Linked DNA regions of Homo sapiens. The protein of the gene in region 1 purifies or fractionates together with the protein of each later gene. This does not show direct contact. Each region holds a gene or a part of one and is shown in the gene's direction. Other genes may lie near its edges. The genes, in order: HADHB, GPC4, RTN4, POTEI, MTCH2, FGF2 and MTNAP1.

Region 1 (3,500 bases):
GAGTTCAGGACCAGCGTGGCCAACATGGTGAAATCCCATCTCTACTAAAAATACAAAAAAATCAGCTGGGCGTGGTGGTGGGTGCCCGTAATCCCAGCTATTCGGGAAGCTGAGGCAGGAGAATTGCTTGAACCCTGGAGGTGGAGGTTGCAGTGAGCTGAGATTGCGCCATTGCACTTCAGCCTGGGCAACAAGAGCGAACCTCCGTCTTAAAAAAAAAAAAAAAACAGCAGGGGGAAAGAGGAACTCTGCTCTCTTTTTCCAATTCTTATTTATGTATTTACACAGGGTCTTGCTCTGCTGCCCAGACTGGAGTGCAGTGGTGTGATCCTAGCAGCCTCAAATTCATGGCCTTAAGCAGTCTTCTCACCTCAGCCTCCCAAGTAGCTAGGACTACAGATCCATGCCACCACGCCTGGCTAATTTTTAATATTTTTTGTAAGAGACAAGGTCTTGCTTGCTCTGTTACCCAGGCTGGTCTTGAACTCCTGGCCTCAAGTAGTCATATCACCTCAGCCTCCCAAAATGTTGGGATTCTAGGTGTGAGCCACCATGCTTGGCCTCTTTCCAATTCTTTGGTAAATCTCAAGTTACTTAAAAGCAAAAAGTTTCTTCAAAAGTCCTAATACATCACCTGTAGCCCTGTAGGCATTACAAAATAAATAAATAATATACTTTTAAAATAAAATGTTTAAAGGAAAAGAGACCTCAAAGGTGGGGCTTCACTTTAAAGAAAATTTAGCATATGTTATACTGAACATTAAGGTGTTGGACAACATTTTTGTTCGATTCTTAGCAAGCTCAGGAGGAGTTAAGGCTTGCTAGACTTTTAAGGATGACAAATAGCGAAGTCACACTATTTCTTCATTTGAAATGATGGACTGCCTTGGATAGTAAAGTTAAGTGTGTTTGTAGCAGCATGTGTTTGATGATCTCTGGGTATTTCAAATAGAATGAAAATTTTTCATTGAAGCTCTAGGGTTTTGGTTTAAATTACTGGTTTTCGTTCCCCAGATATAAAGACCTGATGCCACATGATTTGGCTAGAGCAGCGCTTACGTAAGTAAATGCAGTTTCATTTCCGTTCTTATTTCATTAAAGGCACTTTCTCCAGTTTTTACACATAAAATAGCAATTTGTTCTTATTTTAGCCATCTGTACTATACAAATTTAAGCAGCTTATGAATATTGTCAATCTTTATTTTGCAGGCCTAACAGTGTCTTAGCCTGACAGTATACTTTAATGCTACCTTAGCTAGCCACAGGACTCGATTGATCAGCCTAAACACAATACATATATTTGATGATTGCCTTAGGAACTTGTATAAGGGTAGCTGAACAGATTATGTAGATATTTACCTAGAAAGAAGCCTAAAAGACACCTGAAGATTCATGTGCAAACCAAGTAAAAATGTAAAATTAGATGTAGTTAAATAAGATTAGGCTGGATGAATAATTTGGTTGAGAATCATTAAATGTGTTGCTGTTTCATAACATGTAAGGCATTATCTCTTCATTTTCCACTGACACTTTGCCTTTGTGTCTTCAACCAGCCACAGTTCTTTCTTAGTTTGGAGAAACCCTTCAGTTGACCTTTCTGTCCATTCTAACTCTATGTTTGTTTTTTTTTTCTTCCTGCAATACCTCAAGCATGAGTGAAAGAGCAGTTGTTTCTGTTTCCTTATTATTAGTTTCCTCTGTCTAATTGTATAATCATTATTTCCATTTTCCCTTTGTTTTACAGAAACCATACTTTAGAATCTTCTCTTAATAATGGTTTTATGATTGCTCAATGTACTGATCCTTTCTCAGTCCTCTGTCTCTGTACTTTATAGCACTTGACACTGTAAGCTATAATCACCTCTCTTCTGTTGACTTCTTAGTAATATGCCTTTATGATTTTTCTTTTTCTTCTGTATCCTGACTGATTCTTCTGTAGCTTTTTTTTTTTTTTTTTTGAGACGGAGTCTCGCTCTGTCACCCAGGCTGGAGTGCAGTGGCGTGATTTCGGCTCACTGCAAGCTCTGCCTGCCGGGTTCACGCCATTCTCCTGCCTCAGCCTCCCGAGTACCTGGGACTACAGGCGCCTGCCACCATGCCCGGCTAATTTTTTTTTTCTTTTTTTTTTTTGTATTTTTAGTAGAGACGGGGTTTCACTGTGTTAGCCAGGATGGTGTCGATCTCCTGACCTCGTGATCCGCCCTCCTCGGCCTCCCAAAGTGCTGGGCTTACAGGTGTGAGCCACTGCGCCCGGCCGATTCTTCTCTAGCTTAAAAAAAAAAAACTGGGCCAAGCACGGTGGCTCACTCCTGTAATCCCAGCACTTTGGGAGGCTGAGGTGGGCAGATCACCTGAGGTCGGGAGTTCAAGACCAGCCTGACCAACATGGAGAAACCCCATCTCTACTAAAAATACAAAATTAGCTGGGCGTAGTAGCACATGCCTGTAATGCCAGCTACTTGGAAGGCTGAGGCAGGAGAATCCCTTGAACCTGGGAGGCAGAGGTTGCAGTGAGCCGAGATCACGCCATTGCACTCCAGCCTGGGCAACAAGAGCAAAACTCCGTCTCAAAAAATAAAAATAAAAAACCACACACACACACAACTGGATCTCTCCCTCTTTCTCTTTTTGAAAGGTGTTTTGCAAGTTTCATTCCTTAGAGCTTTGCATTTCTCTGTATGCATATTTTCCTTTAAAAATCTCATCTACTAGCTAGGCATGGTGTCTTACACCTATAATCCCAGCACTTTAGGAAACCAAGGCAGGAGGATCAAGGTAGGAGGATCTTTTGAGCCCAGGAGTTTGAGACCAGCCTAAGCAACATAGTAAGACTCCATCTCTACAAAAAAAAATTTTAAAAATTAGCCAACCAAGAGAATTCAGCTCAGGAGTTGAAGGTTGCAGTGAGCTATGATTCCACTACTAGACTCCAGGCAGGGCAATCGAGCAAGACTTTGTCTCAAAAAAAAAATTTTTTTTAAATTTTTAATTTATTTTTTTCTGTATGGAGTCTCACTCTGTCCAAGGCTGGAGTGCAGTTGCTTGATCATAGCTCACTGCAACCTCGAAGCCTCCCAGGTAACTGGGACTATAGGCGTAAGCCAATGTTTCTAACCCTCTTTTTAGTTTTTTTAATTGATAAAAAACTACAGATTTTACAGATTTTTATTTATTTATTTCATTGTAGCCAAGTTTAGTCATTACTCATTTTGAAGCTCAGCTTATTCCACATTTTATCTGGCACTCCTTCAAGTTGGCTCCTGTGTGCCTTTTGTTTTTTAGTATAATGCTGGTTGTTGATATATAATTTGCATGCAATAAAGTGCACAGATTTTAAGTGTATAGTTTGATGAGTTTTGACAAATGTATATACCCCGTGTTCCTGTTTTTGATATGGTCCCATTTGTCTTTTTTTTTTTTTTTTGACACAGAGTTTCGCTCTTGTTGCGCAAATTGGAGTGCAGTGGCACGATCTCGGCTCACTGCAGCCTCCGCCTCCC
Region 2 (3,500 bases), on another chromosome or scaffold:
AGAGACGTGGTTTCACCATGTTGGCCAGGCTGGTCTAGAACTCCTGACCTCAAATGATCCAGCCTCCCAAAGTGCTGGAATTACAGGCATGAACCACCATTCCAGGCCTGTATCTAAACACTTTGAAGTGAAATAAATTTAAAGTAAATATGCATATGTTGGTATAGCTTGGAGAACGTTTTTATTCTTTTGGGGGAGTACTTGTCTTTACCACTTCATTAATAACTGAATGCTTATAGGATTTTTTTTTATTTTTTGAAACAGAGTTTCGCTCTTGTTGCCCAGGCTGGAGTGCAATGGCACGATCTCAGCTCTCCGCAACCTCCGCCTCTGGTTCAAGCCATTCTCCTGCCTCAGCCTCCAGAGTAGCTGGGATTACAGGCATGCACCACCATGCCCGGCTAATTTTGTATTTTTAGTAGAGATGGAGTTTTTCCATGTTAGTCAGGCTGGTCTTGAACTCCTGACCTCAGGTGATCCACCTCGGCCTCCCAAAGTGCTGGGATTACAGGCATGAGCTACTGCACTGGCCAGGAATTTTTCAGAAAGATTCAGAATTGTTTTTCTTAATGCCTTGAGATACACTTCTTTAAAGAATGAACAGTTGAGACTGTTGTGATTAGGCAATTTAGAGCAAATTTACCACATGCAACTGTTCAGTGTGCATCAGTTACCTTTTAACATAAAAAAACTCAAGTTTATTGTCTTTACCAAGAAGAACACAAGCTTTGAAGGGTATCAGAATATTTTATATAAATAAACAGACATACTAAAATACAAACAGGTAAAAACTAGCATTTTCAAATCTACTTGGTTAAACATCTGTTGCTTACTATAGAGAACATGAAAGTGCAGAAAATGCATGAAGCGATTCCATCCTGGAGGTAATTTGAAATATTATGTTTAAGTTCTGATGCATTTAATTCAGCAATCTGGTGGGAGAGAAAAATCAAAGAGCTGCATCAGCCAGGTATTCAACTTTTGAGAAAGAAACTCTAACAAATGTTAGAAATTAGGGGAAAAAACTGAATGGGAGAGTTAAAAAAGTCAATAACCTCCAGGAAGCCTGGAAACTATGTAAAAACATCTTATTGGAAGCCCAGATAAATGTGTGCCAGACATCAAAAAGACCAACTGCTCGGGGGAAGAAAAAAAGAACCCGGCATGACTAACTGGCAGAGTAAAAGAGGCTGCTTCAGGGAAAAAGGCATCTTTCACAAAATACAAAGAGTTTAAGCCAGAAGAGGGAAGTCCACTAGGTTTCACAAGGCCCAGGTACAAACTAGAAATTAAGTGGGCTGACAGAGAATTGAAGTTGAATCTTGCAAGGGATTTGAAAGATGGCATGTGTGATAATAATGGTGAAAAGGGTGGGTTGAGTCCAACCTATCTAGGGAGAAGCAATATGGCTTCTTTAAGGGTAAACCATGCCTGATTGATCTCTCGGGATTCTTTGTGTGGAAAAAAAAGCATGAGGATACAGGGAAGCAGACATACATCATTTAGGTTTTTAAAAATTATGCAATGGGATTCTAAGGCAAAGAATATTCAGAAAATATATTTACTTTGAGATAGGTGGGGATAGTTGGACAGAGAGGGAGAGTGAGGGAGGGAAGAGACTCCACTGTTGTAGATGGAGTAGTTTACATGGAGAAGACATGGCTTGTTAGGATGAGTAGTTCTAGCCTAACTCTGGCAAATTTGTTGTCAAATACCTTTGGTGAGGTTCTTCCCTCTTTGAAAAATGGGGTGAAATTGAACCACCTGGCACCTGAGGAGCTTTTAAAATATACTAATGCCTGGGTACCACCCCATACCAATGAAATAATACTTTTTTCAGGAAGGACTAGGCCATGATGGATGGATGGATGGATGGATGAATGTGTGTGTGTGTGTGTGTATTTTTTTTTTTTGAGATGGAGTCTTGCTCTTGTCACCCAGGCTGGCGTGCAATGGCGTGATCTCAACTTACTACAGCCTCCACTTCCTGGGTTCAAGCGATCCTTCTGCCTCAGCTTCCCGAGTAGCTGGGACTACAGGTGTGTGCTGCCACACCCGGCTGGTTTTTTGTATGTTTAGTAGAGATGGGGATTCACCATGTTGGCCAGGCTGGTCTTGAACTCCTGGCCTCAAGTGATCCACCCACCTTGGCCTCCCAAAGTATTGGTATTACAGGCGTGAGCCACTGTGCCTGGCCCATGGTAGTTTTTTTTAATTTTCTTTTTTTTTTTTTTTTTTTTTTGAGACGAAGTCTTGCTCTGTTGCCAAGGCTGGGTGCAATGGCATGATCTCCACTCACTGCAACCTCCGCCTCCTGGGTTCAAGTGATTCTCCTGCTTCAGCCTCCTGAGTAGCTGGAATTACAGGAGCACACCACCACTCCTGGCTAATTTTTTATATTTTTAGTAGAGACAGGGTTTCACCATGTTGGCCAGGCTGGTCTCGAACTCCTGACCTCGTGATCCGCCCGCCTCGGCCTCCCAAAGTGCTGGGATTACAGGCGTGAGCCAGCATGCCTGGCCTAGGTCCCTTCCATCTCTGAGATTCTATTATTCTAAATTTTCCAATGAGATTCATCACAAAATGTTGTTTGAGATAAAGCCTTTAGTTTAGAATCAGTGCATGGTTGTTTTAATTTTGGCTAACTTGGATTTAAGAGAAAGGTGTGTCAAACATGGAGGAAAATGTTTTCAATCAAGATATAAGTGTGAACCACAACTGAGTGCTGCTTTGCTGCAGGTAGAGACATAAGACAAGCACAATGAGAATACTTTGGAAAGAATTAGAACAGAATCCAGCCTTGCTGTCATTTATTGATTAAGTGTCAACATGCTAGGTGATATTTCTTCCCTTTTTCTTTATTGGTAAAATTAAAATAAATCTCTTTATCCCTTACTTTAATGTCCTCTTTGCCATGTGTTTATTCTCTTCAAGTATCTTATCAAGAAATAGAAGTACAGTAAATCCCTAGGCTTCTAGCTGGTGCAACCATCCAGAACACAGCTGGGAATGTGGAAGTAAGCAGAAAAGCCAAATGATGGAAACAGCTGTCATAAAGCCCATGCATTCTATGTGGAGAAAAGGCCTTCAGAAATTTATTATCAGCAATCATTGAATGGCTCCTGTATCCAGAGCAGTATGCTGGGTGCAGGGGATTCCAAGAGGTGTCAAGCAGGAATCAAGCTTTTGAGGAACTTGCATTCAAATTAGGTAGATAGGGTTTATACGTGAGAAGATAAAATGCTTTGGTTATCCAGTTTCCCAGTCTATGGCAGATTAGAAGTAGCAAATGGTATTGGTTGGGGGCCGATGGGAATCACAGGAAGGGATCGTGTTAGAGGCAGGTAAGACTTGACATCTGGAAGAAGTGAGAGAGGACAGTTGGAGGGTGACCAGAAGCTGAATGGGAGAGCCAGAACTTGCTGATCTTGGCAGTTTGAGATCTCCTAGAATGGGCGAATGCTCAAAGCCACCTTTGTAACCATAATCATCGAGGGCAC
Region 3 (3,500 bases), about 29 Mb from region 1:
CTGACTCCAGATTTAGTACAGGAAGCATGTGAAAGTGAATTGAATGAAGTTACTGGTACAAAGATTGCTTATGAAACAAAAATGGACTTGGTTCAAACATCAGAAGTTATGCAAGAGTCACTCTATCCTGCAGCACAGCTTTGCCCATCATTTGAAGAGTCAGAAGCTACTCCTTCACCAGTTTTGCCTGACATTGTTATGGAAGCACCATTGAATTCTGCAGTTCCTAGTGCTGGTGCTTCCGTGATACAGCCCAGCTCATCACCATTAGAAGCTTCTTCAGTTAATTATGAAAGCATAAAACATGAGCCTGAAAACCCCCCACCATATGAAGAGGCCATGAGTGTATCACTAAAAAAAGTATCAGGAATAAAGGAAGAAATTAAAGAGCCTGAAAATATTAATGCAGCTCTTCAAGAAACAGAAGCTCCTTATATATCTATTGCATGTGATTTAATTAAAGAAACAAAGCTTTCTGCTGAACCAGCTCCGGATTTCTCTGATTATTCAGAAATGGCAAAAGTTGAACAGCCAGTGCCTGATCATTCTGAGCTAGTTGAAGATTCCTCACCTGATTCTGAACCAGTTGACTTATTTAGTGATGATTCAATACCTGACGTTCCACAAAAACAAGATGAAACTGTGATGCTTGTGAAAGAAAGTCTCACTGAGACTTCATTTGAGTCAATGATAGAATATGAAAATAAGGAAAAACTCAGTGCTTTGCCACCTGAGGGAGGAAAGCCATATTTGGAATCTTTTAAGCTCAGTTTAGATAACACAAAAGATACCCTGTTACCTGATGAAGTTTCAACATTGAGCAAAAAGGAGAAAATTCCTTTGCAGATGGAGGAGCTCAGTACTGCAGTTTATTCAAATGATGACTTATTTATTTCTAAGGAAGCACAGATAAGAGAAACTGAAACGTTTTCAGATTCATCTCCAATTGAAATTATAGATGAGTTCCCTACATTGATCAGTTCTAAAACTGATTCATTTTCTAAATTAGCCAGGGAATATACTGACCTAGAAGTATCCCACAAAAGTGAAATTGCTAATGCCCCGGATGGAGCTGGGTCATTGCCTTGCACAGAATTGCCCCATGACCTTTCTTTGAAGAACATACAACCCAAAGTTGAAGAGAAAATCAGTTTCTCAGATGACTTTTCTAAAAATGGGTCTGCTACATCAAAGGTGCTCTTATTGCCTCCAGATGTTTCTGCTTTGGCCACTCAAGCAGAGATAGAGAGCATAGTTAAACCCAAAGTTCTTGTGAAAGAAGCTGAGAAAAAACTTCCTTCCGATACAGAAAAAGAGGACAGATCACCATCTGCTATATTTTCAGCAGAGCTGAGTAAAACTTCAGGTAATCCAATCTATATGCAGTTTTGTGCTTTCATGCCACTTTTGGATTTAGGGAACATTCCACTACATTTTGTGTTTTATATTATGTTTATAGTGTCTCATATGTCACATTGGTAAGAAGTCTTCTCCACTTTTTCAGTTAAAGGTTTTAGTGCTTTTTCTAACTCTCTTGCACTCAGCATTCACCCTTAACTTTTCCACACAGTTACACTTTTATATTGCACTATGGAACTATTAATAGAAAATATTTTTGTTTATAAGAATTGGCTTTAGTACCTATTTCTTTCTTTCTTTCTTTTTTCACTTGTGTTTCTTGATAACATGAAGAGCAAGAGATATTAAAATATTTTCAGATGTGTTTTTGTTATCCCAGAAATTACCATATTTAATTTTTAAAGAAAATTTCTATAGTATGTTTTAAATATTTCTATATAATATAGTACTTTTCCAGTGGTAGGTATAAAGTTAGGCATATTGAGTGTAGACATTTTGTTGAAAAGTATAAAATGAGTTATGCTATTATGAATTCTTTTGAAAAGTACCGATTCTCCTTTTTTTCTTTTGACTATCCATTTTCCACATACCTGATTTGCATAAGGTGATTTGCACAAGGTGATTTGCACATGTGCTCTTTATTAGCATTCTGATTTAGCTGCGTTTTCTCTAAAATAGTGATTATGATAAATTTACTGAATATACTTATGTATTTAAGTGCTGGTGCTTCAGCAGTACAGTCCAGCTCATCACCATTGGAACAGTGGTAGACCAGTTGCTGTAATCTAAGAAAGAGGAGATTATGAACATTCAGGCAGTGGGATGAGCACAGAGACATAGGACTTGGTGTTTGACGGATAGGGACATAAAGGATGAGGGGAAGAGGTAAAGATGACCCCAGGAACCCTGGATTTCATTTCTGGCATGTGCACTTGTATGGGTGGCAGTATGAGAAACTGAGATAGGGAACATGAGAGATTAAAGTAGGTTTAAGAGGGAAGATACAAATTTGGTTTTGGATATGTTGGTATTGATGTACATACCTCTAAGATATCCAGTAAGTTATGGATATTATACACATGAAGCTCTTGAGAGAGATCTTGGCTGTATGTGTCTGTCATGGGCTTAGAGATAGAAATTAAAGCCCCAGATACCAATTAGGAAGAATCAAGAGAAGAGGACTACTTGAAGGTGGAAGAAATGGTCAAAATTATCAAATACTGGAGAGGTCAGTTAAGGATTGCAAGTTGGTCAAAAAGGAGGGAAGATATTGTCATGACAGCGGCAAATGGTGTGGTGTGCATGGGCATGGCTAGGATTGAGAAGTGAATGAGACTTGAGTAAGTGGTTATTAAATGTTGATTACTCTTAAGAAGTTTGAGATTTTTATTGGAGAAAAATTAAAATATTAGCAAGCAGGAAGGAGAGTATGCAGTGGAGGTAGGACTTTTTTTTTAAGGTGGGAAGGGGAAAATCTGATTACAGGTGCTGGCAGAAAGTCAGAAGGGGATGGGGATGTGCTGCCTAGTTCAGGTGGAAGAATTAGTGTTAGAGAGAAGGAACGATAGAGCTTTGATTGTAGTGAGTGGAAAGGAAAGTATGGGGTATTGATACTGTTAGGGTTTTGTGACTGAAAGTTGAGGGAATTATTTGATGGTTTATGTTTGTTCTTTAAAGCAGTATGTTAGTTCATTTGCTGGGAATGAAGTAGATCATGCTTGGGTGGAAGAGATCTGCAATACCTCTGACTAGGGAAACCAAAGGCATTGTATTAGGAGCCTAATCAAGGTTGAAAGGTGGTCTAAATGGTAGGGTGACTTTTCTTTGATTGTGCCAAACAACCTAGGTATGGGTTCAGGGAAGGCAAATGATTGTATTGATTCAAGGATGTGTTTTGGCAGGTGGGCCCTGTGGAAGGACAGTAAGTCAAGAAAGTTGAGGGTGATAGCAGGAGAGTAATTTGAAGTGATGGACTGTGGCATCTAAGTTGAAGGATGTGAATAGAAAAAGGTAGGAGAGGTAGGAGGAGAGTAGATGGTCAGTGAACTCAAGGCCCAGATTAGGTTTAAGAACCAATAGTAGTAGGAATAAATACATGCCAGAATGATAGGAGATTGTGGTCAAAGTAGGGGAGAGAAAGA
Region 4 (3,500 bases), about 100 Mb from region 1:
TATCTTTACGAAATAGATGTGTTTTTCTTAGTATTGCTTAAAATAGCAGTGTATTTAGAAGAACCCATATAAAGATTTTATGAACAAATTTCAGTGCATCCATAGGATGGAATAATATGTAACTATTGAGGGTGTCAGTAGATACAGAGATATGTCGACGTGCAAAGATGTACTTTGCTATATCAAGTGAGAAAAAAATCAGTTTGTTACACATATACACGAACAGAATCTGCTCGTGTTAGCTGCAAATCTGTAGAAAATATAATCAAACTTGTTTCTGGGGATTTGTAAGTGAAGTTTTTCCCTTTCTCTTATCTGTGATTTCTGCAATGAACATCTGAAGTTGTAGTTAAGGTTCATTACTAATGCAATAATCCTTGGGAAGAGAAGGAATATGCTTCTTGCATAGATGCAAATAATTCCTCACATTCTATTATTTATTTTTATTTCTGTGGTTGGCTATTTTCTGTGAACTTTTACCCTCTTCAGAAGAAGAGGGGTCGTGTTTACCTGTTCCTGTAGATTTTATTATATATACATTTTATTCCATAATTATCTTTTCATTATATATAGATTAACATGTAAAAAGTATGAATTAATCATTTTAGTTGAGTTATATATTTATGAAAATTAAAATAGCAAATATAAATGATTATTGCTATTGCAAATGTATTGCGCTACTCTATAGGAGTTTTCTTTAAAAATATTGAACTCCCAAGCTGTGTTCATCCATTTTTCCTATCCATTTAGTCATCAGACATAAGCCAGACACCTATTATGTGGCAGGCATATTCTACTATCTCTCAGGATCCTTCCGTCTTTGAAAACTACATGTTTTCCTGCTGGGCTTGAGCAAGCTGAGAGATTTAAAATTGGGGCATTAGGACTTAATCTCAATTGAAGCTTTTCCTCCCTCCTTTCAAACAAAAGCATTTCTGGAGGTAGAAAATAGTAATAGATAACCTTTAACTGCCCTTTTGAAAATTTATGTCTTGGGGAAAAGACTGTTTTAGTTGTTTTAAGAACTAAAATGTGGTACATAAACAGCATGGAATAATATGCAGCCATAAAAGAAGGAACGAGAGCATGTCCTTTGCAGGGACATGGATGGTGTTGAAAGCCATTATCCTTAGCAAACTAACATAGGAAGAGAAAACCAAATACAGCACGTTCTCAATTACAGGTGGGAGCTAAATGATGAGAACACACAGATACCTAGAGGGAAGGAACACACACTGGGGCCTATCAGAGGGTGGAGGGTGGGAAGAGGGAAAGAAGCAGGAAATAGAATGAACAGGTACTGGGCTTAACACCTGGGTAATGAAATAATCTGTACAACCAACACCCTTGGTGCACATTTACCTATGTAACAAACCTGCACATCCAGCACATGTATCCCTGAATGTAAAAGTTGAAAAAAGCTCCACAAATAGTTTCATAAATCCATTTTAAAACAAGAAAATTTATAACAGTCTTAAATCCTAATATGAATGATTGGAAATATCTGATGTACATACATTGTATAAATCTAAGTGTTGACAAAAATGAGCCCATGCTATTCATTTGAATTCCAAGTTTTCTTTGACTTAAAGTTTATTGAAAACCAAAGTAAGAATTGGTTTATTTTAGAAATTTGTTTTTGTTTTCACCTCTGCTCTCTTATTCCATAGTTCTTTTAGGAACTAAAATTTATCTAAATGCTGGTCATCTGACTGGAACCGCCCCAGACCTGTTGTAACATATTCTACTTAATGTAAGACACCAGGGATTGTATGATGCCCCATTATTTTATGCCTCAATAAGAGAATTATTTAAATGCCGCAAATTATAGTAAATCATGAATTGTAAGTGGTATTTCAGTGGAGACAACATGGAGACAATGATCATCTCAGAATCACTAAAATACAATGTTAGCTGTAATATTTAAAACACACCTGAAAGTGCAGGTATAATTGTATCATCTCAATTCAAATGTTGTCTTTAGTGGTATTAGTAAAAATTAAAATATCTAACAATTATTGAGCTGTTATTTGTGTTAGGAACTATTCTATATCTTTTGTGCAGAGTCTCATTTAAGCATTACAGTGGTTTCCCGTAAGAAAGCTACTATTTTCATTCCTATTTTATTGATGAGGAAACTGAGACCCCAAAAGGCTAAGCAACAGCCAGGAAGTGACAGAGCTTCAAGTAGGATTCCAGCTCAAGTTGAATGTCATCCAAGGGCTATGCTCTTTGTATTCATATAGGATGCTCTTTCATTAATACAGCGAGTAAAGAGAGATAATAAATAGTGTGCTTTTTTCATGGGAAAGTTAAATGTTTGTTTTGAAGGCAGAGTAATAGCAGGCTATTCAGTGTTTGCAATTACATGAATCATTGCTATGGCTGTAGCTAGTGCACTACAATTTCCTAAAAAGTCTTGTCACTCTCATAGGACTGCTCTACATCTGGCCTCTGCCAATGGGAATTCAGGAGTAGTAAAACTCCTGCTGGACAGACGATGTCAACTTAATGTCCTTGACAACAAAAAGAGGACAGCTCTGACAAAGGTATGCAGTAGCCAACTATATCAGCATGAGGTGGGTTTGATTTCAATACATAGCATAAAAATGAGTTTTCTCCTTTAAATATAACTTAGGTGGTGAAAGCTGTGGAATGTTATTTTGAATTCCTAGGATTTGTAATTTGTTTTTGGTCTAATACTGACAGGCCGTACAATGCCAGGAAGATGAATGTGCGTTAATGTTGCTGGAACATGGCACTGATCCAAACATTCCAGATGAGTATGGAAATACCACTCTACACTACGCTATCTACAATGAAGATAAATTAATGGCCAAAGCACTGCTCTTATACGGTGCTGATATCGAATCAAAAAACAAGGTATAGATCTACCAATTTTATCTTCAAATACTGAAATGCATTCATTTTAACATTGACCTGTGTAAGGGCCAGTCTTCCATATTTGGAAGCTCAAGCATAACCTGAATGAAAATATTTTGAAATGACCTAATTATCTAAGACTTCATTTTAAATATTGTTACTTTCAAAGAAGCATTAGAGGGTACAGTTTTTTTTTTAATGCGCTTGTGGTAAATAATTTTTTTGAAAGCACTGAATTTGTAGAAGGTAATACTTACTATTTTTCAATTTTTCCCTCCTAGGATTTTTTTCCCCTAATGAATGTAAAATGGCAAAATTTGCCCTGAAATAGGTTTTACATGAAAACTCCAAGAAAACTTAAATATGTTTCAATGAATAGAGATCCTGCCCCTTTGGCAAGTTCCTAAGAAACAGTAATAGATACGAAGGTGATGCGCCTGTCAGTGGCAAGGCTTAAGATATTTCTGATTGCTCATGAGGCAGAAGTGGAAAGCGGAAAAGAGAGCAATCAGAAATATCAAGGCCAATTTGGAAATTAGGTAATAGAGGGAAAAGACCATGAAGAGGTTGTGTGTGTGTGTGTGTTGTCGTTGTTGATTGATTTGTTCCCTTTGTAT
Region 5 (3,500 bases), on another chromosome or scaffold:
TTTCTTCATGTAGGGGTCTTGTTCCTCGCCTTCTAGGTGACATCCTTTCTTTGTGGCTGTGTAACTCACTGGCCTACCTCGTCAATACCTATGCACTGGACAGTGGGGTAGGTTGTGACCTTCGTGAGATGTGCTCACCTTGGCTTTAATCTGGCAGCTAGATTAGCTTTTAAAGTAAGATGGGCCGGGCGAGGTGGCTCACACCTGTAATCCCAGCACTTTGGGAGGCCAATGTGGGCGGATCACCTGAGATCAAGAGTTCGAGACCAGCCTGGCCAACATGGTGAAACCTCGTCTCTACTAAAAATACAGAAAAAATTAGCTGGGCGTGGTGGTGCGTGCCTATAGTCCCAGCTACTTGGGAGGCTGAGGCAGGGGAATTGCTTGAACCCAGGAGGCGGAGGTTGCAGTGAGCCAAGATCGCGCCACTGCATTCCAGCCTGGGTGACAGAAGGAGACTCCATTTCAAAAAATAAATAATAAATAAATAAACAAGATGACAGTTTGCTACATGCCAGACTGAACAATTATATAGCTAAAAATTATCAGTCAAATTTTCAAATGCTAATGAAATGAGCATACTGTTCACTGTAGAACGATACTGTTTACTGTAGAACGATACACGTTAAAAGTCCGTAAGATGTGACAGAGTATACCCAAGAGACTTAGCCCTGTGTTACTTCAGGGCTTTAAAGAGATCACTTCTTTACTGATACTTAACTTGAGAGAACCTGGGAAAGCAGGACATCTTTATGGTGTATCGGGGGCTTTTCATCTAATCTGGACTTAAGAGGGTGCCTGTATTGGGCTTTCTAGAAACCTCAGCCTTTTGAGAATCAGTCTTATCTAGAAGTTGTCTTTCTTATCTCAGCAGTTGTGGGGCCTCTTGTATGTCGGCAGCTCCATAGCATGATGATAAATTGAACACATCACAGGGTATATGACTAAATCCATGTTGTAAACCTCTTGAGTACAGAGAGGGATTTTCTTCAACGCATCTGGTAGAAAGCTAGCTGTGTAAAACAAAGGTAGTGAATTGTCCCTTAGATATACTATAAATGTGGTTTTCCAGGGACTGTATTTCTAGGATGTGTGAAAAGGTTATCAATCTCATTTTCTTTAGTATTTGAAATCCTTTTACATTCGTCCCTAAAGCATTTTAGTATAATATGAATTTGTCTGTTAATATTGAATCAGGTTGATCATTTTGACCACTGCCTTATTATTCTAATAATCAGTGTTTTATGGTTTTGTCCTCAAAATTAGTTTTAGACAGGTGTGGTGGCTCATGCTGTAATCCCAACACTTTGGGAGGCTGAAGTGGGAGGGTCACTTGAGCCCAGGAGGTCAAGGTTGTGAGATCACAGCTCACTGCACCTCCAGCCTGGGCAACAAGAGAGATGAGATCCTGTCTCAAAAAAAAAAAAAAAATTAATTTTCAAGCTGTCAAACTGATAATTTAGAGATAGACTATATTGACATGGAGAGCAAGGCACAGTAGCTCCAGCCTATGATTCCAGCGACTCAGGAGGCTTAGGTGGGAGGTTTGCCTGAAGCCAGGAGTTTGAAACCAGCCTAGGCAACATAGCAAGACACCGTCTCTTAGCTGGGCATAGTGGCTTATGCCTATAATCTCAGCACTTTGAGAGGTCAAGGTGGGAGGATCTCTTGAGCCCAGGAGTTTGAGACCAGCCTGGGCAAACATAGGGAGACCCTTATCTCAAAAAAAAAAAGACACCATTTCTTAAAAAATATTTTGAAATTAGCTGGGCGTGGTGATGTGTGCTTCAGGAGGTCACTGCACTTCAGCCTGGGTGACAGAGTGAGGCACTGTCTGAAAGAAAAAAAGAAAAGAAAAGAAAAGGAAAAAAGAATATATTGATGTGTTGTAGTGTTGTAGGTAATTAATTTAAGGCTCTTTTCCTATTTTAGGTTTCTACCATGAATGAAATGAAGAGTTATTCTCAAGCTGTCACAGGAGTGAGTTTTTTAAAATCCTTTTAACCTTCTAGGAATAGTTGTGTTTTGTTTTGTTTTCCTTTTAAATCTGGCTTGTGTCATCACTGCTTTAAGATAACCAGATGTCTCACTGGGACATCTCCCTGAAATTTGTTATATTTGTCAAAGGTAAGAATAACTCAGTTTTCGGCCAGGCGCCATGGCTCATGCCTGTAATCCTAGCACTTTGGGAAGGTGAGGTGGGCGGATCACCTGAGGTCAGGAGTTCGAGACCAGCCTGGCCAACATGATGAATCCCCGTCTCTACTAAAAATACTAACATTAGCCGAGCGTGGTGGTGCATGCCTGTAATCCCAGCTACTCGGGAGGCTGAGGCAGGAGAATCACTGGAACCTGGGAGATGGAGGCTGCAGTGAGCTGAGATCACGCCACTGCACTTCGGCCTGGGCGACAGAGTGAGACTCCATCTCAAAAAAAAAGAGAGAATAACTCAGTTTTCGAAGGAACCACAGACTCACATGTGAAAATAAAGAGAGTAAGGCAGAACCCCTGCCTCACATCCTGCATGGTTTGGTACTGCTTAGCTTTCATAAGGGGCGTGCCTTTCCTCCGAAATAATATTGTTCAGGCCAGACATGGTGGCTCACACCTGTAAACCCAGCACTTCGGGAGGCCAAGGAAGGAGGATCACTTGAGGCCAAGAGTTCAAGACCAGCCTGGGCAACTGAGCAAGACCCCATTTCTACAAAAGTGAAAAAAAAAAAAAAAAGCTGGGGCAGGCGCGGTGGCTCACTCCTGTAATCCCAGCACTTTGGGAGGCTGAGGTCGGGAGTTCGACACCACCTTGGCCAATTTGGAGAAATCTCATCTCTACTAAAACTACAAAATTAGCTGGGCATGGTGGTGCATGCCCGTAATCCCAGCTACTTGGGAGGCTGAGGCAGGAGAATCGCTTGAACCCCAGGAGGCGGAGGTTGCAGGAGAATCGCTTGAACCCAGGAGGCGGAGGTTGCAGTGAGCCAATATCACACCATTACACTCCAGCGTGGGCAACAAGAGGGAAACTCCATCTCAAAAAAAAAAAAAGTAGTTGGGTATGGTGGCGTGCGCCTATAGTCCCAGCTACTCAGGATCAGAGAATTCTTCTGGCCTTTTGTTAAAATGTTGGATGCAGTGGTGTGCTAAGAGGAAGAAGCATCTCCAGGCTCAAAACTGTAACTGTTGTCTTTCCAGGGTACCGATGAAGCGAGACAAGTGTTAGAGTGTCTCACCGCAGTGGCACTAGGCCTTTAAGGTAAAGGAAAGGAGAATAAAGACTAGGAATGATCTAATAACAGCTGCCTTGTTTCCATTTTACAGTTTTTTGCGAGTATGTTGACCTATCCCTTTGTGCTTGTCTCCAATCTTATGGCTGTCAACAACTGTGGGTAAGCACTTTGTATTTCTTATTCTAGTAGGTGGTTGACTGTATGCTGACAGGCGGAGCAGCCTTGTAGAAATTTAGGAAAGATGAATGATCAGTATCAATCTCTGATTGGTAT
Region 6 (3,500 bases), on another chromosome or scaffold:
AAAATCTTTCATCACACTTATTTTATGAAAATCATTTGCTGTGTAAGCAAATTAAGTATAAGCATTTTGTGTTTCCACTAGATAGATATTTGCACACAAAAAAATAGACATCAAAATCCCATATAGAAAGCTAAATGCATCTATAGTTCATTGAAGAGGAAGCTAGAAATAAGATGTGTAGAAGTCAAAGAAATAGGGCCGGGCGCGGTGGCTCATGCCTGTAATCCCAGCACTTTGGGAGGCCAAGGCAGGTGGGTCACGAGGTCAGGAGATCGAGACCATCTGGCTAACATGGTGAAACCGCGTCTCTACTAAAAATACAAAAAATTAGCTGGGCGTGGTGGTGGGCATCTGTAGTCCCAGCTACTTGGGAGACTGAGGCAGGAGAATGGTGTGAACCTGGGAGGCAGAGGTTGCAGTGAGCCGTGATTGTGCCACTGCACTCCAGCCTGGGTGACAGAGAGAGACTCCGTCTCAAAAAGTCAAGGAAATACAGCTCAAATTATAACAGTGAATAACTAGATTTTGTTTCATTTGTGAAGAATTGGCAAATAACTTTTAAATAGTTTCAACATAGGCAGTAGCATGGGAATTCTCCTACACTTTTATGTACCCTTAAAATATGTTCACTTTAAAAAATGTAAATAGTTAACAGGGGCGATTGAAAGCTAACTGCCCAACAAAGGAAACAATTCTCCGTGTGTCCCCCTTCTCTGCTCACCCTGTGACACCTTCTCTGCTCACCCTGTGACACAGGAGCGACAAGGAACTCACAAGGCACTGGTGCCCTAGTAGTTCTGCATCTCATCCTCTCTCATACAGTTTAGTTGACATCTGCTCCCTGTCACTCACCCATACCCCCAACCTCACCAATCCTCCAAAGTGGATTAGTTGTTGCTTAGGTGTGTTTTGTCTTTATATTGCGTAAATATTGTGAAGAAGGCTCTTTCCTCTGTGGTGCTACAAAGATAATTTTTTTTCCCGTTACAGTCAAGCTACAACTTCAAGCAGAAGAGAGAGGAGTTGTGTCTATCAAAGGAGTGTGTGCTAACCGTTACCTGGCTATGAAGGAAGATGGAAGATTACTGGCTTCTGTAAGCATACTTTCTGTTTTCACACGTTTTTTGTTAGCTTTTATTGCTGTTAATTTACCAGCATTGTTGTTTATCAAATCTTTATAAAGGATTTTACGTGTATCATCGTCATAGTCACCCTGTAAAATAGGGAGTATTTTCTTTATTTCACAGATGCAAAAACTGATGTGCTGAGGGAGTAAGTAAAGTAAGAAAACACAGCTCATATAAAGTAGAGACTGGATTGGGCTGGAGGCATTCCTGACCTCTAAGTCACTGCTTTTACTCTGCAAAACTATTAAGCTATAATTTAAAAAAAATTTTCTTCTATTATGCAGTTGTTTGAAGATCATTGGGAATAAATGTATACAATTTTGATTATTAGTTTTTAAGTTTCTTCTTTAGAATGTGACGTACAAAACACTAGCAATGTAGAACACTAGTTGAGAATGTAAGCTTTCTGCCTGGTACAGATGCCGACTCTGCCACTTATGAGCTCTGTGTTCTTGGGCAAATGATTCTGAGTTAGTTCTCTTACCTGTAAAATAGAAACAATGATACTATCTCATTGGGATTTTATCAGAATTTAATTAGATACTACACATCAAGTGCCCAAATCAGCATCTGACACGTAATAGATCCTGAAAATTGTTACTTCTTCCTCACATTACTTCTCATTTACATATATGTCAGGAGAGGGACTTTTTTTTTTCTTTTTTTTTTTGAGATGGAGTCTCACTCCACTGCGCAGACTGGAGTGCAGTGGCGTAATCTCGGGTCACTGTACCCTCTGCCTTCTGGGTTCAAGCAATTCTCCTGCCTCAGCCTCCCGAGTAGCTGGGATTACAGGAATGCACCACCATGCCTGGTTAATTTTTTTGTATTTTTTAGTAGAGACAGGGTTTCGCCATGTTGGCTGGGCTGGTCCTGAACTTCTGACCTCAGGTGATCCGCCTGCCTTGGCCTCCCAAAGTGCTGGGATTATAGGCGTGAGCCACCGTGCCTGGCTGTAGAGAGGAACTTTTCTTTTTTACATGTTATCACAGCTTATCAGGGGTCCTAGTTCCTGGCTAGTATTCTTTCCACTAGTACAGGCTCCCTGTCAACTTCACCATTATTATTAGAAACGGGACTGCATATCTGTTGAACATATGATGTATAAAGAATGGTGCAGGAAAATAAATATAAAAGACAGATCTCATTCCTGTCTCCGTGAGGGAGTAGATAGGACATGTATGTAAATGTTTGTGCGTGTGTGTGTTTCACAGCTCTTACACCAATGCCACTGGCCAGTTATGACATCTCTATATAACCTCCCCACAGAAAGGATCTAACAGTACTAAGAAATTGTGGTATTTTGAGCTATACAAATAGTTTTTGAAATTTCTTCTGAATGAAGACCTTTGGATTTCTAAAAGCACCAAAACAAGGCTTACAGAGAAAAAGGGTATCTAAACTATCCCAATTTCAGACTGACTGTATGACAAAGATATACTTACATTGATATTACCAGTTTATGTAATTTTTGCAGGATAAATCACAAGTTTGAGTGTAGTGGCTCTCAATTTTGGGGGGAGGTAGTTGAATAAATTTTAGAATTCTCTTTAAGAATAGCCAATACTTATTAAGTGAAAGTGTGCCAGATGCTATGGTAGGCATTGAGCTTATAAAATTGAATATCAAATTGTCTCTGCCCTTAATGAGTGACAATCCAGGGGAGGCAGAAGTGTAAATAAGTATTTATAATAATGTATAAGGGTTTTGATATGCTACTTCTATATTTTGCATACATGCATAGTAATATAGGAAAGGATAAGAAGTATTATGATATAGGAAGCAATATAGAAAATGAGGTAATTACATTTTTCTAGAATTGGGGGAGATGACCTATAAGTAGAATTTTAGACGTTGTAAAGGAAGGAGTTCAGCAGGCAGTCATGGGGCAGAAGAAATTGAGATGAAGGTATAGATAACTCTAGGACATAGGACATGAAAAGGTGTGGATAAAAAATCTACTTGATGTATCTCTAGAATTACAAGTAATTAACTAATGCTGGAATGTATAGTGCAATGGAGTAACTAGGTGGAAGGGAAGGGAGAGAAGGCTGGGGAGGTAGATAGACTGTCTGCTGAATCTGTTGAAGGGCTTTATACACCATGCTGACTATAAGCAGTGGAGAGCCATGAAGAGTTTTAAGAAGAGATCTAATTAGATTTAAATTTGAGAAAGATCATCCTGGCAGAAGTGTAGAGAATGGACTTGAGGGGGCCAAGACTGGTGGAGAGAGATCAGTTAGAAGGCCACTGTAATAGTCCAAGCAAGTCATGTTCTGATCCTGGCAATAACAGTAGGTCAGAGAGGAGTGAGGAAAGTGCTAGCACTTGTGATTGATTAGATTTAGGACTGAAGATGAAAGAAAAGTCAAA
Region 7 (3,500 bases), on another chromosome or scaffold:
CCTCTCCATTTGTTAGGGTTGTTTTTGGCTGGTGGGTTTTCTGTGTCTCTTCATCTCATCAAACTATTCAGTGTCTGATTTTTTGACTTCTGCTTTGGCCCACAGAGAGTAACTTGGATACTTACAGGTAGAAAAAGCTTTGAGGAAATTTAGGCAACGTTGATGGATAAGTGTTTCCCCAACCTCCTTTCTAACGTAGAGGGTTAGTTATATATCACACGCACACACCCGTCTGTCTCAGCTTTGCTTGTGGTGTCCTCATGCCAAAATACATGAGGTCAGTTCCTCTTATGTCCCAGCTCTTTTAAAACTACAGGAATGCTGGGTGCGGTGGCTCACGCCTGTAATCCCAGCACTTTGGTAGGCCAAGGCGGGCGGATCATGAAGTCAGGAGTTCAGGATCAGCCTGTGCAATGTGGTGAAATCCATCTCTACAAAAAAAAAATTGTAAAAAGTAGCTGAGCTCAGTGGCACACGCCTGTAGTCCCAGCTACTCAGGAGGTTGAGGCAGGAGAATCACTTGAGCCCAGGAGGCGGAGGCTGCAGTGAGCTGAGATTGTGCCATTGCATTCCAGCCTGGGTGATGGAAGTGAAACCTTGTCTCAAAAATCCCAAAAAACCTACAGGAAAGCCACAGCCAGCATGTGTTGACTTGTATGTCGTTTCTCTCTCTTCTCAAAGCTGGAATGCTGGGGCTACTTTTTACCTACCTTTTCTATTCCCAATCCCCTGCTCCTTTCCATCCCTAGTGGGAGTAATTTAATTCTGCAACAAATTCTCATAGTTAAGGTATTCAGCAATATATCCCTGTATCCTAGAATTCTCTGTAAGGAAAAAAGTTGTGGTTGAGGGGAAGAGTTCTACATTCAGTTATTTTAGTTTAATATTACTAAGAACTTCATTGGAACCCAGAACAATCTTCCCTGCCGAAAGAGCTTTGTGCCCATTCTCTGTGAATGCTCTTTAGGAGAGATGCTTAAGGATTCTCTCCACACCTCCCCATGTGTCCTTACTCAAGACCAGAAACTCTCAAGGTGAGAAGGTAGATGAGAATGACCTTCAGTAATACCCTCTTTCCCGGTCCCCCAGTTCCCTCGAGCAGGGGCAGCAGACCCCACTGTGACCCACGGACCAAAGCCAGCCCACTGCCTTGTTTTTGTATGTAGTCAAAATGTACAAAAACAAGCCCTGCTCATTTGGTTAGGTGGCATCCATGGCTGTTTCACACAACAACAGCAAAGTCGAGTAGTTGCGACAGAAACCATATGCCCTGAAAAGCTGAAAATATTTACTATCTGGCCTTTACAGAAAAATTGTGCCGACCCCTGCCCTGGAAGAGCACAGTACCTCCATGCATTGGTGTGGCGAAGACGACTGGGGATTGCCGCTCTAAAACATGTTTGGATTAGGAAGCACGTTTAAGTAGGAGAAGCCTTCGTGACTTCTCTCTAGTGCCTTCGTGCCCTGTGTTGCCCACTGAATTGCCCTGTAACACCTAAGTGTAGTGGTAGCATTAAGGGATAGCTTTTCAGCCCTCAAGGTTATCAGGAGCATTTGTATCACTGCTATAAATAAAGTAGTATCACTTGTCATAATCAGGGTGCTGAAACATAATGAAAAGGTTTAACTTAGTCACAGTAAATATTTTATATCCCTGAAAATAAGTTATTTAATGAGAATAGAACTATTTAATGATCCATGAGTCCTAAAAGGATATCTGCCTTGTATTGCCAAGTTTAAGGCAAAGGTGAGATCCTGTATTAATAAGAAGACAGCTTTTTTGTTTGACATTGGTAAGTACCAAGAATTCTAACTCACATATAGTAGGAAACAACAAAAAGTCTCCACTGACTTCTTTGAATTAGATACTGAGAATCCACAATACAGTAGTGTGGATAACTTTCAAGAAGCCATTGGAAACATCTCCACATTCTGGGATGACTTGTAAATGTCTACAGAGTAATGGAAGGAAAGGCTTCCTTGTCTGCTCATTGCTGCCACCTGGGTTGGGAAAATAATTGAAGATGTTTTCTCAAGTCCTTCAAGAATCTCTTCTTAATGTTCAGAATAGTTTAAGAGCGTTGTTGAGGTAAACTGATAGCTGATTATTTTCTGAGATTTAGATCTAAACAAACTCAGCATGACGAGGAAGCACACTTCACAGCTCCAGGGTGCAATACTGATGTAAAGTTGCCTCGTGAGGATACATTTTTCGCTCATGTATGCAAAATTCCTATCAGTTCATTTGCACAGCCAGTTCCAATCATGTATGTGATCACCAGATTAAAAGCTTCATCCAGAAAGACAAGACTCCTCAGAACGAATAGTAGACAAGTAAGACTGCTACCCACAGAAGCCAGTACGCTTCAGGTGTGAGGCGGGGTAACTACTCATCTCTTCACAGAGCCAAGGAAAGAAAAAGAACGTCTCTAACATGATTTACCATTTTAAACAGCCTTATAAGTTTTGTCTCTTAAAATCATGCTGCAGAAGGAGGGGGTAAAAGTCGTGTTCTGCCCTGTCTGTGGCATTGGAGTGCCCCGCTAGGTAAGAAGCAACGCTTAGATCTTGCTTCCAGGCAGCAGCTTGAATTCCCGAATCTTCCTGCAAGGTGCATACAAATGCAGCGTGAGAATCCATACACGTAATCCATATTCACCTTCCCATCCATCCCGCAGAAGAGGCATGGTGACACCCAGGCTACTGTCCATGCTTGAGAGGACGTATTTGAAGGTTCTGTTACTACAAGTTGGGAATATTCACGGACATGCCTGAATACCCCGGCTGTAACTCACACGTGGTCTGTGTAAGTGGATTAACCTCGGGGCGGCCTTGTTTAATCCTGAATAATATCTGAAAGACTGAGTTTACTTGGGAATGTGTAGTTTTTCTAATGCACATTAAAATTTATTTTAGCTGTTAAAAATAAAATCATTTTATTATCAGCAGACTCTTTTATACTTTATGGGGCATCTACATACTACTTCCGCCACTCTTCATAATAAAATTATTTGTAAAATATAAAAAGTACTCCCCTGAGCTGATTATATGCCTCTTCTAGAGCCTCACCTGTGAAATGGGTGGGTGTGTCCCTGGGTAAGTTACCCAGTTTACTGGAGCCTCCTTTGTACTGTAATTTAGGGATAATTATTCCTACTTTGCAGACATTTGGTGAGATTAGAAGTCTTACATGTGTTAATTCCAGCAACGTCTGTGATGGTAGGAACTCATTGACAGCAGCTGTTCTAAAGCCTGTAGTATGTGCCATCATACTATATATAAATTCCAACCTTGAACGGAGGAAGAGAGGCCCTACTGCAATCCACAGGCAGATCCAGCCAACATCTGGGGCTTGCTTTGTGCCGAGTGCCATGCAAGGTTTTTTACATGTGTTTTCTCCTTTTAGTTTCAAACAGTCCTGTGGCGTAGGTGCTATCCTGCTCATTTTCCAAAAAGAAAACGGGCTTGAGGTAGAGTGATTTGCCTACGTAGCTCTGTGC

What was found.
Region 2: the proteins of HADHB (region 1) and GPC4 purify together in Homo sapiens (co-immunoprecipitation; one large-scale study listed by IntAct). This does not show direct contact.
Region 3: the proteins of HADHB (region 1) and RTN4 fractionate together in Homo sapiens (co-fractionation; one large-scale study listed by BioGRID). This does not show direct contact.
Region 4: the proteins of HADHB (region 1) and POTEI purify together in Homo sapiens (affinity purification with mass spectrometry; 2 studies listed by BioGRID and IntAct, with this or other methods). This does not show direct contact.
Region 5: the proteins of HADHB (region 1) and MTCH2 fractionate together in Homo sapiens (co-fractionation; one large-scale study listed by BioGRID). This does not show direct contact.
Region 6: the proteins of HADHB (region 1) and FGF2 purify together in Homo sapiens (co-immunoprecipitation; one large-scale study listed by IntAct). This does not show direct contact.
Region 7: the proteins of HADHB (region 1) and MTNAP1 purify together in Homo sapiens (co-immunoprecipitation; 3 studies listed by BioGRID and IntAct, with this or other methods). This does not show direct contact.

Annotation. Positions count from the first base shown.
Region 1 is NC_000002.12:26,268,939-26,272,438, forward strand, and holds part of HADHB (trifunctional enzyme subunit beta, mitochondrial isoform 1 precursor), read left to right. Parts: intron 1-1,014; coding exon 1,015-1,059; intron 1,060-3,500. UniProt on the Homo sapiens protein: Mitochondrial trifunctional enzyme catalyzes the last three of the four reactions of the mitochondrial beta-oxidation pathway.
Region 2 is NC_000023.11:133,405,490-133,408,989, reverse strand, and holds part of GPC4 (glypican-4 precursor), read left to right. Parts: intron 1-3,500. UniProt on the Homo sapiens protein: Cell surface proteoglycan that bears heparan sulfate. May be involved in the development of kidney tubules and of the central nervous system.
Region 3 is NC_000002.12:55,022,952-55,026,451, reverse strand, and holds part of RTN4 (reticulon-4), read left to right. Parts: coding exon 1-1,366; intron 1,367-3,500. UniProt on the Homo sapiens protein: Required to induce the formation and stabilization of endoplasmic reticulum (ER) tubules. They regulate membrane morphogenesis in the ER by promoting tubular ER production.
Region 4 is NC_000002.12:130,502,829-130,506,328, reverse strand, and holds part of POTEI (POTE ankyrin domain family member I), read left to right. Parts: intron 1-2,434; coding exon 2,435-2,549; coding exon of another isoform or gene 2,550-2,579; intron 2,580-2,709; coding exon 2,710-2,883; intron 2,884-3,500.
Region 5 is NC_000011.10:47,625,560-47,629,059, reverse strand, and holds part of MTCH2 (mitochondrial carrier homolog 2), read left to right. Parts: intron 1-13; coding exon 14-107; intron 108-1,932; coding exon 1,933-1,980; intron 1,981-3,318; coding exon 3,319-3,386; intron 3,387-3,500. UniProt on the Homo sapiens protein: Protein insertase that mediates insertion of transmembrane proteins into the mitochondrial outer membrane. Catalyzes insertion of proteins with alpha-helical transmembrane regions, such as signal-anchored, tail-anchored and multi-pass membrane proteins.
Region 6 is NC_000004.12:122,875,331-122,878,830, forward strand, and holds part of FGF2 (fibroblast growth factor 2 isoform 18 kDa), read left to right. Parts: intron 1-990; coding exon 991-1,094; intron 1,095-3,500. UniProt on the Homo sapiens protein: Acts as a ligand for FGFR1, FGFR2, FGFR3 and FGFR4. Also acts as an integrin ligand which is required for FGF2 signaling. Binds to integrin ITGAV:ITGB3.
Region 7 is NC_000017.11:73,245,933-73,249,432, forward strand, and holds the end of MTNAP1 (mitochondrial nucleoid-associated protein 1), read left to right. Parts: intron 1-1,308; coding exon 1,309-1,409; 3' UTR 1,410-2,561; coding exon of another isoform or gene 2,562-2,604; 3' UTR 2,605-3,027; downstream 3,028-3,500. UniProt on the Homo sapiens protein: Critical regulator of mitochondrial DNA (mtDNA) abundance. Binds dsDNA throughout the mitochondrial genome without sequence specificity and controls mtDNA copy number by promoting its replication.